Linked DNA regions of Homo sapiens. The protein of the gene in region 1 purifies or fractionates together with the protein of each later gene. This does not show direct contact. Each region holds a gene or a part of one and is shown on either strand. Other genes may lie near its edges.

Region 1 (3,651 bases):
AACCCCTGGGGAGGCAAGGGGATGTAGGTCTGCCTTTCCATGTAGTTATACAGTGCAAATCAGGCCAGGAGAGAGTTAGTCTTCACTAGTATGTGACAATGATGTTATCAGAACAGCAGGACCAATTCTTACAGTTCCTACCTTTATTTTAAAAAAATGGAGTGTCAGAAGTCACTAAAACTTTAAGTCTACCAGCTTAAATGTGAACATGGAAAAAATGCTGCATTCCTTCCACACACATTTATTACATGGTTCCTACATGACAGGCACAGAGGAAATGGCTGAGTGAGAAAAGGATCTGAGCTCAAGGAATTTACAACCTAGTAGGAAAGCAATGTGATAAAATCTATAATGCAGGCATACATGAAGGGCACACAGAGGGATGACTGATTCTCATCTTAACTTCTATCAGTTATCATTGAAGAAGAATGACATTCACTAAAAGTAACTGAAAAAAAACCTGTTCCAATGTAAAACTGTTCATGAGAATTTTGGGGGGAAATCTACAACCTGTTGGAGATAGTCTGTTTTGAAAGCCATATATTTTCCTGGCTTCAAGGAGCAGAGGTAAACAACAAAAAAACCTTAAGGCTTTACAAACAGTACAAACCAGAAGGCATTTTCTTCGGTATAAAGCAATCACGGATTCTTTGACCCCCCGGCGGGGCCCCTTCATCAGCAGGGCAGCATTGCTCTGGTAGGCATATACCAGGTAGGAAAGTGCCTCTTGGTACCTTAGAAAAATGGGAGATAAACAACAGCTGAGTGCTCTTTTACTAAAATCTAGGGCTTAGACCTCACTTTTCCCCATTTCAAGAACCTACTTGGCTGCAATTCTGAAAAAGTGAAGGACCAAAGACCGTAGCCAGTCTCATCTCTTCTACAAATTGGCCTAGCCATCCAAAGCAAATATGAAACTTCCCTAGGCCTCAGGTTTTCCCATCTCTAAAACAAGAAATGCTCACTAGGGTCTATGTCAACTCAAAAATTCATTTTCTGAGTTCATCTTCATTGATCACAAAGACAGCCTGGCACAATATTATCTCGCAGCTAATACATCTAATCATTTGAAGGATGAAAAACCATGTGTGATGTTTAGAGCAAAACCAAAGCACTGCAAGAGAAGAGGCACACTAGTGTATGTGACAAGGGAGGTTATGCATGGCTGTGACTCTTAGTATTCCCAGGTAGGCATCTACAGAGAACAGCATCCTGACTAATAATCTTGGTAAAATAAAAGGCCAACATACTTTCCTTTTTGATAGAGTTCTAGGCCTGTTAGGAGATACACAGACACTTTTCGGAACAAACTATAATCTTCATGCCACTTCTGAAAAAGAATGACGATTATTAATAATCATGATCATAATAGATTGTTAGTGTCCTTCCCATCTAAGTTTTAAATTCATTACAAATATTTACTGAGCACATCTGGCTAGCCACAAAAATAACAAACAAAAGCTTTCAGATAAAAACCTACTCAACATTTAAAATAAAAGTCTACCACTGACCTTAATTTTCAATGTTCTGTTCCTTTCACTTGAGTAACAGAAGTACTTATTTCCTACGAGCTTCGGATTTTATCCTAATTTCTAACAGCTATGTAAAAGATATTCAGCTCTAGCTTAAGTGAATGACCTCTTTAGGACTGGTAAAACCATCCAGATATTGAAAATATGGAAGGACACGGACATTTCTAGTCATACAGAGCAAGTTCAAGTTCAGTAAGTGTGGTGAATACACCTTGGGTGGTACATAACATTGTTTTACATGGGATGCAATTGAAAACATGTGTAGCTATGTATTTTAATGCGTATTTTTAAAACTTTATCATTTAAAACAAACCAAAAGCATGATTTCAAGAATTTTACTGCCTAGGACAAGGCTAAAATAGGTATTTAAGGGAAGTGAAATGTTGACTCACTCTAAATGAAGAATGAAAATAAAGAGACCTGCTATTCTGAGGGCAAGAAAATATCATTTATCCATTCTTTACCAGGATTTTGAGGGGAAAGTGGAAGAACAAGTCAGTTTGTAATAGCACAAAATTGTTTATTTTGCCTCAGGTACCATTTACCTCAGGAATTAATGTTTTTGCTCTATAGACTTAAAGAAAACACTTTACCTTGTACTCTTCCATATTCATGTCATCTGGACCAATTTCCTTCAGTTTCGCTTGAGCCACCTTCATAATGCTGATTGATCTGTGTGGGACAAAGTTCAGAAAGCAATGAAAAGGCACAGGGCAAAACTTCCCCAACAGAGGAGTCCATCTAGCCCAACCCAGACCAAGGGATTCACCTGAATATTCTCTTCTCACCTTTCATCATAGCTAAGATTTTTATCTGCAAACTGTTCCAGAAGGGTTCGTTCTACTACCCTTTTGGGTGCTTCATTTTGGAAAAAGTAGACAAGGACATGCTGAAGTCGAGGATCACTGTGAGAGGTGGGGGTCTCTTTGGCAAGCTGATAGAGCCTGGAGTATTCTTCATGGAATGCCTATTAAGGGCAGAATCAATGGTTAGAAAATAGTGTGCTGTGGGCTTCTGCACACAGAAATTGATGCCTAGGAGCTAGGCAGTCTCTTGACTCTAAAAAGACTTCTAAAAAATTCATATCGAATTACAAAAACAACTATGGAATTTTTAAGTTTCTTGCATTTCATAAGGGATGAAACTCTTTTAGCATTCTGGCACCAAAAACATACTGTACTTTTTTTTTTTTTTGAGACAGAGTATCACTTTGTCACCCAGGCTGGAGTTCAGTGACATGATCACAGCTCACTGCAGCCCTGAACTCCTGGGCTCAGGTGATCCTCCCACCTCAGCCTCCCAAGTAGCTGGGACTACAGGCATATACCACCATGCCCAGTTAATTTTTGTATTTTTGATAGAGATTGGGTTTCGCCATGTTGCCCAGGCTGGTCTCAAACTCCTGAGCTCAAGCAATCCACCCACTTTGGCCTCCCAAAGTGCTGGGATTACAGGCATGAGCCACTGCGCCCAGCCTACTGTACTCTTAAGAAATTCAGTTTTCTCATAAAGTTCTCAGAAAAACAAATATTTAGTTTTAATTGTTATAAAAGGCAGATCCTTGTGTGTCAATGACTTAAACTTAAAGAATCTATACAAATGCAATTTTACTCAAGTATTTTTAAAAACACAGCCTACTTTGTTATGGCCTCAAAATTACAAAGGCACAATCTAACTCAGTGTTACTAACAGACAACTCCTAACAACAACAATGAAAAGCCCTCTAGGCTAGGTGTCACAGAGAATGTTACTGCTAGCCAAGGCTGGGTTAGGGTCAAGAGAAGAGAAGTGAACAGCTTGTTCATCAGTTGGACAGGAAAGGAAGTCTCATATTTCACTTCACAGAAGACTTTTTTTTTATTTTTTGGAGACAGGGTCTCACTCTGTCACCCAGACTGGAATGCAGTGGCACAATCATGGTTCACTGCAACCTTGAACACCTGGGCTCAAGTGATCCTCCTGCCTCAGCCTCCAAATTAGCTGGGACTACAGGTATGTGCTACCATGCCCAGCTAATTAAAAAAAAAAAAAATTCCTTAGTAGAGATGGGGGTCTCACTATGTTGACCCGGCTGGTTTTGAACTCCTGGCTTCAAGCAAGCCTCCCTCCTGGGCCTCCC
Region 2 (3,651 bases), on another chromosome or scaffold:
CTGCCTGGGAGTCTCACCTGGGCTCTTGCCTAGGAGGCCCAGTTCTTAATTTTTAAGTGACAGCATTCTTTTTTTTTAAGTGATAGCATCTTGCTCTGTCACCCAGGCTGGAGTGCAGTGGTGTGATCATACCTCACTTCAGCCTTGAACTCCTGGGCTCAGATCCTCCCACCTCAGCCTCCCAAAGTGCTGGAACCACAGGCATGTGCTACCACACAGGGCTCAGGCCCAGTTCTTAGCCATAGTTTTCAAGCCTCCCCTCTGGCCCTCCACAAGGCCCTGGGCCTAGCCTCTCACCACCAGCTGGCGCCAGTGCAGGATCCGCTGCTGTTTGGCCTGTAGCTCCCTCAGCAGGAGCTGCCGATGCCCAGCTGCATCCTGCAGCTCCTGGCTCTGATCGTGCAGGGCCTTGAGCTCCGTCCACAGGCAACAGCGCCGAAGCCCCAGTATCAGCACCTGCCTGCAGGGCAAGTGGAGGAGAGCAAAGGAGAGAAGGGTGACTGAGCCACACAAGGGACCATAAACCAGGGAGAGACACTGCAGGGAGAGGAGGCAGAGATAGGAGCCACAGAGGCTGAAAAAGTCCAATGGGCTGAGACACTCAGAAGCGAGATGGCCTAGAGACCTCTTCTCGGAGAGCCCCCCACCTCTCACTGGATCCCAGGACGCGTCTCTCCACCTCCTCCACCAGGCCCTGGAGGCGCTGGGTCAAGACTTGCCGCTCCTTCAGGAGGGTGCTCCGCTGGGAGACCAGCACACCCACAGTCCGCCAGCCCTCCTGCAAGCGGGGTACAGAATCAGGGTACACCCAGGGCATGATCCATGGGTGAGGGGATTAAGGAAGTCTTGGAATGTGGTGGGGAGGCGAGCCCTGGGGTCACCTGGATGAGATGAACCATGGACGGCAGGGTCTGGCTGGAGTCTGACTGGTCCGGGGCCTGGGGTCTGGGGTGGGGGAAGAGCTGCTGAGGGAGCCGTGCTGCGGCCTTGCCTTGGTACTCGAGGGTGGACAGTATCAGTCCTGCCACCCCACCAGGCAGTGGGTTTCAGTTCTACCCCATCAGCAGGTGGCTGGGCCAGGGGTCCTGAGGCTGTCCCAGCTCACCCACTCACATGGCCTTCCCCAACTGTGAGAATACCCTGCCCCACACCTGGATATCTCTGTGTCGCCAAGCCCATCCCCACTGCACAGGGACCGAATCTCTGCCTCCCGCTCTGCAGCCAGGTGCTCCAAGGCAGCCAGGACGTGGCCTGGGGGGTGGTTTGTCAGCAGCGTCTAGGGGGAGGGAGGGTGAAGTCAGGGCAGGATCGGGGCAGGGCTGTGAGCTGAGACCCCATGGGAATAGGGCTGTCATCAAGAGTTAGGTCCTGGCACCCTAAGTTTTGATCAAGGAGCGGGAGGGTGTGGCTTTCCTGAGAGCCCTGCCCTCTCACCTCCACTGAGCTCAGCCACTGCTGGTACGAAGTGCCAAAGTGGTCATCATGAGGGGTTCTGTGGGGTTGGGTAAGCGGACAGAGAACGTTACAAGACACGTCAATTATCCTCTAGTTATCACCACCACCCTATAAGGTAGGGGCTGTCATCTTCCCTATGCCTGTTAGACTTGAGTTCCCCAATTATACCAACCTGCTGGCTTTGGGGCCTTTACATGGGTTGTTCATCTGGGACACTCTCTGGACCCTTCACCCCAGCTAAGCCTCCTCACCAGAGAACCTCTCCCCTCCCTGCCTTCTTAGCTGGGAAAGGCACTGCCTCTGGGTGCCCAGAGCCTCTCAGGCCTCCTCACTCCCGCAACAGCCCTGACCACCTGGCTGTCACTGTTTGTGATGAGAGACTGTCTCCTTCTATTCCCAGCCTGGAAGTCCCCTTCTACAGAACGTAGCCCAGAAGCTCAGTGTCTGAGGAATTAATAAATAAGAGACCCCCACTTAAAACCCAGGGTCTTTACAGGGTCTCTGGGGGCTAGGGACACTCACGGGAGGCTGCCCCTCTTGGCCTGGGGAAGCAGGAGGTTCTGCAGGAACTGGGCCCGGAGGGTGCAGGCTGTTCGGACATCACGCTAGGGAGAAGAGGAGGAAGGGACCTGAGGGGGACCCTAGCATCTGCCTGACTCCAGGCTCCCTGCCCCTTCTCCCATGACCAGGACTCTTACCAGGACCACGGGCTCCAGGCCCAGAGCTGCCGACGTGAGGGATCCAAAGGTCACATCTACTTTGGCTTTCCTGGAGGGAGAAGTGCAGCTGGGGCTGGGGTCCCTGGGAGAACAGATGTCTGTGCCCCATCTCCTCTCACTGCCAGCAAGGCCGGTCAGAGGAATCACTAAGCCTAGATCTCGGGAGCCATCTCCAGATTAGGCCACTGTCACCTCCCAGCTGGAATATTGCATTAGCCTCCCCACTGCTTTTGCTCCACGAGACTGTTTGCCACCCAGAAGTCAGTGATTCTGTTAAAACTGTAGGAAGATCATGTCCCTGCTCAGATCTGTCCAAAATAATGTGATGTTTCCCCAGCGCATTCAGAATAACAATGGGCCCAGCGTGGTGGCTCATGCCTGTACCCCAGCGCTTTGGGAGGCTGAGGTAGGTGGATCACTTGAGGTCAGGAGTTCAAGGCCAGCCTGGACAACATGGTGAAACCCCGTCTCTACTAAAAATACAAAAATTAGTCGAGCACAGTGGCATGCGCCTATAATCCCAGCTACTGGGGAGGCTGAGGCAGGAGAATCGCTTGAACCCCAGAGGCAGAGGTTGCAGTGAGCCAAGATCATGCCACTGCACTCCAGCCTGGGCAACAGAGCCAGACTCTGTCTCAAAAAAACAAAACAAAACAAAACAAAAAAACCAAACCCAGAATAACAATGGTTAACAGGCACTTCTCTAAGCACTTCACATGATTTATTCCACCTAACGATCATGCCTACCCTATAAGCTTGGTATTAATATTATCCCCATTCCACAGATCTTAGAATCTGAGGCACATAGAAAGAAGTTAAATACCTTGCCCAAGGTCACCCAATTTTTTTTTTTTTAAACAGAGTTTTGCTCTTGTCACCCAGGCTGGAGTGCAGTGGTGCAATCCAGGCTCACTGCAACCTCCTTTTCCTGGGTTCAAGTGATTCTCCTGCCTCAGCTTCCTGAGTAGCTGGGACTACAGGCACGTGCCACCACACTCGACTAATTTTTGTATTTTTTAGTAGGGACGGGGTTTCACTATGTTGGCCAGGCTGGTTTCGAACTCCTGACCTCAAGTAATCCGCCTGCCTCGGCCTCCCAAAGTGCTGGGATTACAGGTGTGAGCCACCATGCCCAGCCTTAGGTCACCCAATTTTAAGTGGCCAAGCCAGGGCATGAACCAGTGTCAGGGTAAAATCGCAACACATCATCCACAGTTCTCTGTCCACTCCTTCGACCTCACCTCCTCAGGTTCTCGGTCTTGCCTGAGAAACTTGAGCTGACATTGGCCTCCGGGCTGCTCTTCCTGCATGCTGAGCACACCACCTCTGCTCTTGCTATTCCTTCTCCACAGAAATTCCTCTTCCAACTCAATGTCCCCTCCTCAGAGGCCTTCGCTGACCACCCTCGCTAGGGCAGCATCTCCCTCTCCCTTCTATGATAGGCTTTTCTTCACAGCACTCATCTCTACCAGAAATG
Region 3 (3,651 bases), on another chromosome or scaffold:
GCACAACAAATCCATGGCACTGAAATAGACATGAAGGTAACAAACAGCAATGGAGACTTCTGAACACAGATGACATCTAAAAATATTTTAAATGACACTCTCTAAATTTACCTGCAGTTATCACTGTTAGTGCTCTTCCCTGGAAGTATATATAAGCCAAAACAGTGGAAAGACCAGCAATCTTCTATATTTGGCCTGGGAGTGCATTATACAGGATATTTTTTTCCTTCTGGCAGCAGATTTTTCTTTCTAATTATATAGTGTTCAAGGCTACAAGAAATTTACTTTGCATTCCCTGTGAACACACACCAGCTGGGAAGCAGAAGGATATGTGACGACTGAGCTGTGGGTTTCAGCATGCAAAATATCCATAATATGGATAGTCAAATTCTAAGGCAATATAAAATTAAGTATTATTTTATAGATCATTTTCTCTTTGTCGATTTTTGTCTGCCCCGAAATATAGTTGGAATGTCTAATTTTGTGAATGAAAGTGTTTGTTTTTGTTTTTGTTTTTAATCAAGTTACTTGGTGAAAGAAGCCAGGTCTGGTACTTTAAAAATTGTGCTGTTATTGATAATACACACTCTTAGTTTTGAGTGATGATTTCAAGGTACTGATAGGGCAACCGTACAACAAAGAGAACCACTGTTTCTCTTTACCTCTGGCCCTTACGGTTTCTCCCAGTCAGGCTGCTTTTTATGTGTTCAGCATGTTCATACCCAAGAGTCAATTCTCAGTAGCTTTAAACTTGAGGCCAAAGTGGGGAGATAGATACCTTTTTCCAACCTTTCTTTGTTTATAGAAAACCTATTAGACAGTTCTTTCTTATAGATCATAGATATATTGTAACACACTTGGGAGGTCTAAAACCCTTAAGTGGAGTATTATCCAAAATTAAAATAGTAACATTTAAATAAATTAGAAAGATATTCCACATATTTAATCTAGTAAAGTTATGTTAGAGTTCATGGTTTTCTTTCTTTCAGAAGTTGGTGTTAGTTCTTACGTGGCACCTTTTGGTGATTTCCAGGTGCATCGTTAGTTTTCTACAACCATTAGTAATGGCGGAAACCACGATTACTGTTGCACCAACCTAATAGAAAGTAGGACTGTGTATAACATGGCATTATCAAATGCAGACATTTAAAAATTAAAGCCTTGGGTAAAGTATCACAATTCATCCATGATTGGGAATCTCACTGGTATTCAATCAAAATAGTATATACCTCACATTTCCAATCTTTTTTTTTTTTTGAGACAGAGTCTCACTCTGTCTCCCAGGCTGGAGTGCAGTGGCGCGATCTCCGCTCACTGCAAGCTCCACCTCCCGGGTTCACGCCATTCTCCTGCCTCAGCCTCCCAAGTAGCTGGGACTACAGGCCCCCACCACCACGCCCGGCTAATTTTTTTGTATTTTTAGTAGAGACGGGGTTTCACCGTGTTAGCCAGGATGGTCTCTCTCTCCTGACCTCATGATCCGCCCGGCTCGGCCTTCCAAAGTGCTGGGATTACAGGCGTGAGCCACCGCGCCCGGCCAGTCTTTTGTTCTTGACATTAAACTAACAGTATCGCCTGGGCGCAGTGGCTCACGCCTGTAATCCTAGCACTTTGGGAGGCCAAGGCGGGGGGATCACGAGGTCAGGAGATTGAGACCATCCTGGCTAACACGGTGAAACCCCGTCTCTACTAAAAATACTAAAAAAATAGCCAGGCGTGGTGGCGGGCGCCTATAATCCCAGCTACTCGGGAGGCTGAGGCAGAAGAATCGCTTGAACCCGGGAGGCACAGGTTGCAGTGAGCCGAAATTTCGCCACTGCACTCCAGTCTGGTTGACAGGGTGAGACTCCATTATCAAAAAAATAGAGAAAAAAAAAAAAATAAAGCAAAACAAAACGAAAAACAAAAAAAAACACAGCATCTATACTGAGTGAACGTATATGCATATTGTATGCACTGTTGGTTTTATTTTTATTTAACCAGACTGAGAAAGAGGTAGGTTCGTAGAAACTTCAGAAAGAAACACAAATTAGGACACACTTGGAAACTACTATTACTGTGGTATTAGAATCTTTGGCATGGGAGATTGATGGCTTTAGCAAACTGTATGAAATTCAAGTATTTACTTAATTATATGGTTCACTTTATAAAATATTTAAATTCTCTTCTGACCATTTATTCAAGTGCTTCAATATGAACTTCTGAAATATTTGCATTTTATAGGTATATTTTATGTGTTTAATTTTTTCAAAAGCACTGTTTTGACTTCTCGAGGGATTCTCACATTAAGTTTATCAGGTCCAGAGATACCAGACAATTTGAACCACATGGTTAATACTAGATCATGTCATAAAGTGATATACCAATGAGAAGTTAAAAATATGATTAGAAAAGCTATTTGTTTTGCCAGTTTGATCAAAGCAAAAAAATTAGAATTGAATAATTAATTCATAAGTTTAGGATACATATAATTCAATTTCTCTAGTTAAATAGAAACAGAGTAGAACATCAAAAGTAGGCCTGTCATTTAAGGTTGACTCTCTTGCCTTGTCTATGAGTTAGGGAAATCAACCTTAATGTGGTAAAATTTTCAAATTATAAATAAGGATACTAATATTTAACCAGTATAGTAAGTTATTCTGACAGTGAGGTAGTAACATCCCAGTTTTGCTACAAAATATATCTAAAAGAATATATACAATAGCATCTATAGTTATTGTGATTTGTTTTTAAAAATTGCAGAGAATGCGACAGGGTACTCCTGAAAAAAAAAAAAGAAAAGAAAAATGAACAACATTTTGTTTTTATTTAGCTGTAACTGAAGAAATGTTGTCCCAAACTTTTTCTGTTTTGGGTCTGGTTGCCGTTGAGATCGAGTTTTCCCTTTGTAAGAGGGCTCATTGCTTGCAATTTCTTAACCCAAAAAGAAGAGGAAAATCTATACTTTAATAATGTATTTGCCTGTGAATAATACTTTAGAAAAGTAGGATTTTTTTACATTATAGATATTAGCTCACAATTACGATTACTTCTTTAGAATGAATTCCTAGATTTGCAATTAAATCAAAGAATCCACAAAATTTTAAGGAATTTTTATGCCTATTGTCAATTTATCCTTCAGAAAGATTAATCAAAATACCCCCTCATCAGTGGTATTTGAGATGCCTCTTTTTCAGTACCTTACCCAATTTAATATTGTAACTTTTTTTTCTTTTTTTGAGACAGAGTCTCGTTCTGTCGCCCAGGCTGGAATGCAATGGCATGATCTCGTCTCACTACAACCTCTGCCTCCCCAGGTTCAAGCAATTCTACTGCCTCAGCTTCCCGAGTAGCTGGGATTATAGGCACCCACCACTGCGCCTGGCTAATTTTTGTATTTTTAGTAGAGATGGGGTTTTGCCATGTTGGCCAGGCTGGTTTCAAACTCCTGACCTCAGGTGACCTGTCCGCCCCACCCTCCCAAAGTGCTAGGATTACAGGCGTGAGCCACTGCACCTGGCCTGGTATTGTAACTTTATGTATTTGATAGTTGATGGTTAAAAATGACATTGCATTTATTTTTGAATATGAATCTCTATCATTTTATTTCCCATTGTTTTAAAATAGTATTGTAATCTTATTTGATAGTGCTAGCTTGCTTTTAGCTGGCTT

What was found.
Region 2: the proteins of USP28 (region 1) and HAUS5 purify together in Homo sapiens (affinity purification with mass spectrometry; one large-scale study listed by BioGRID and IntAct). This does not show direct contact.
Region 3: the proteins of USP28 (region 1) and GUCY1B1 purify together in Homo sapiens (affinity purification with mass spectrometry; one large-scale study listed by BioGRID and IntAct). This does not show direct contact.

What each region holds. Positions count from the first base shown.
Region 1 is NC_000011.10:113,802,548-113,806,198, forward strand, and holds part of USP28 (ubiquitin carboxyl-terminal hydrolase 28), read right to left. Parts: intron 2,500-3,651; coding exon 2,321-2,499; intron 2,205-2,320; coding exon 2,126-2,204; intron 1,331-2,125; coding exon 1,251-1,330; intron 735-1,250; coding exon 611-734; intron 1-610. UniProt on the Homo sapiens protein: Deubiquitinase involved in DNA damage response checkpoint and MYC proto-oncogene stability. Involved in DNA damage induced apoptosis by specifically deubiquitinating proteins of the DNA damage pathway such as CLSPN.
Region 2 is NC_000019.10:35,615,696-35,619,346, reverse strand, and holds part of HAUS5 (HAUS augmin-like complex subunit 5), read right to left. Parts: intron 2,224-3,651; coding exon 2,154-2,223; intron 2,061-2,153; coding exon 1,978-2,060; intron 1,493-1,977; coding exon 1,435-1,492; intron 1,277-1,434; coding exon 1,152-1,276; intron 946-1,151; coding exon 882-945; intron 779-881; coding exon 648-778; intron 461-647; coding exon 298-460; intron 1-297.
Region 3 is NC_000004.12:155,789,876-155,793,526, forward strand, and holds part of GUCY1B1 (guanylate cyclase soluble subunit beta-1), read left to right. Parts: coding exon 1-36; intron 37-3,651. UniProt on the Homo sapiens protein: Mediates responses to nitric oxide (NO) by catalyzing the biosynthesis of the signaling molecule cGMP.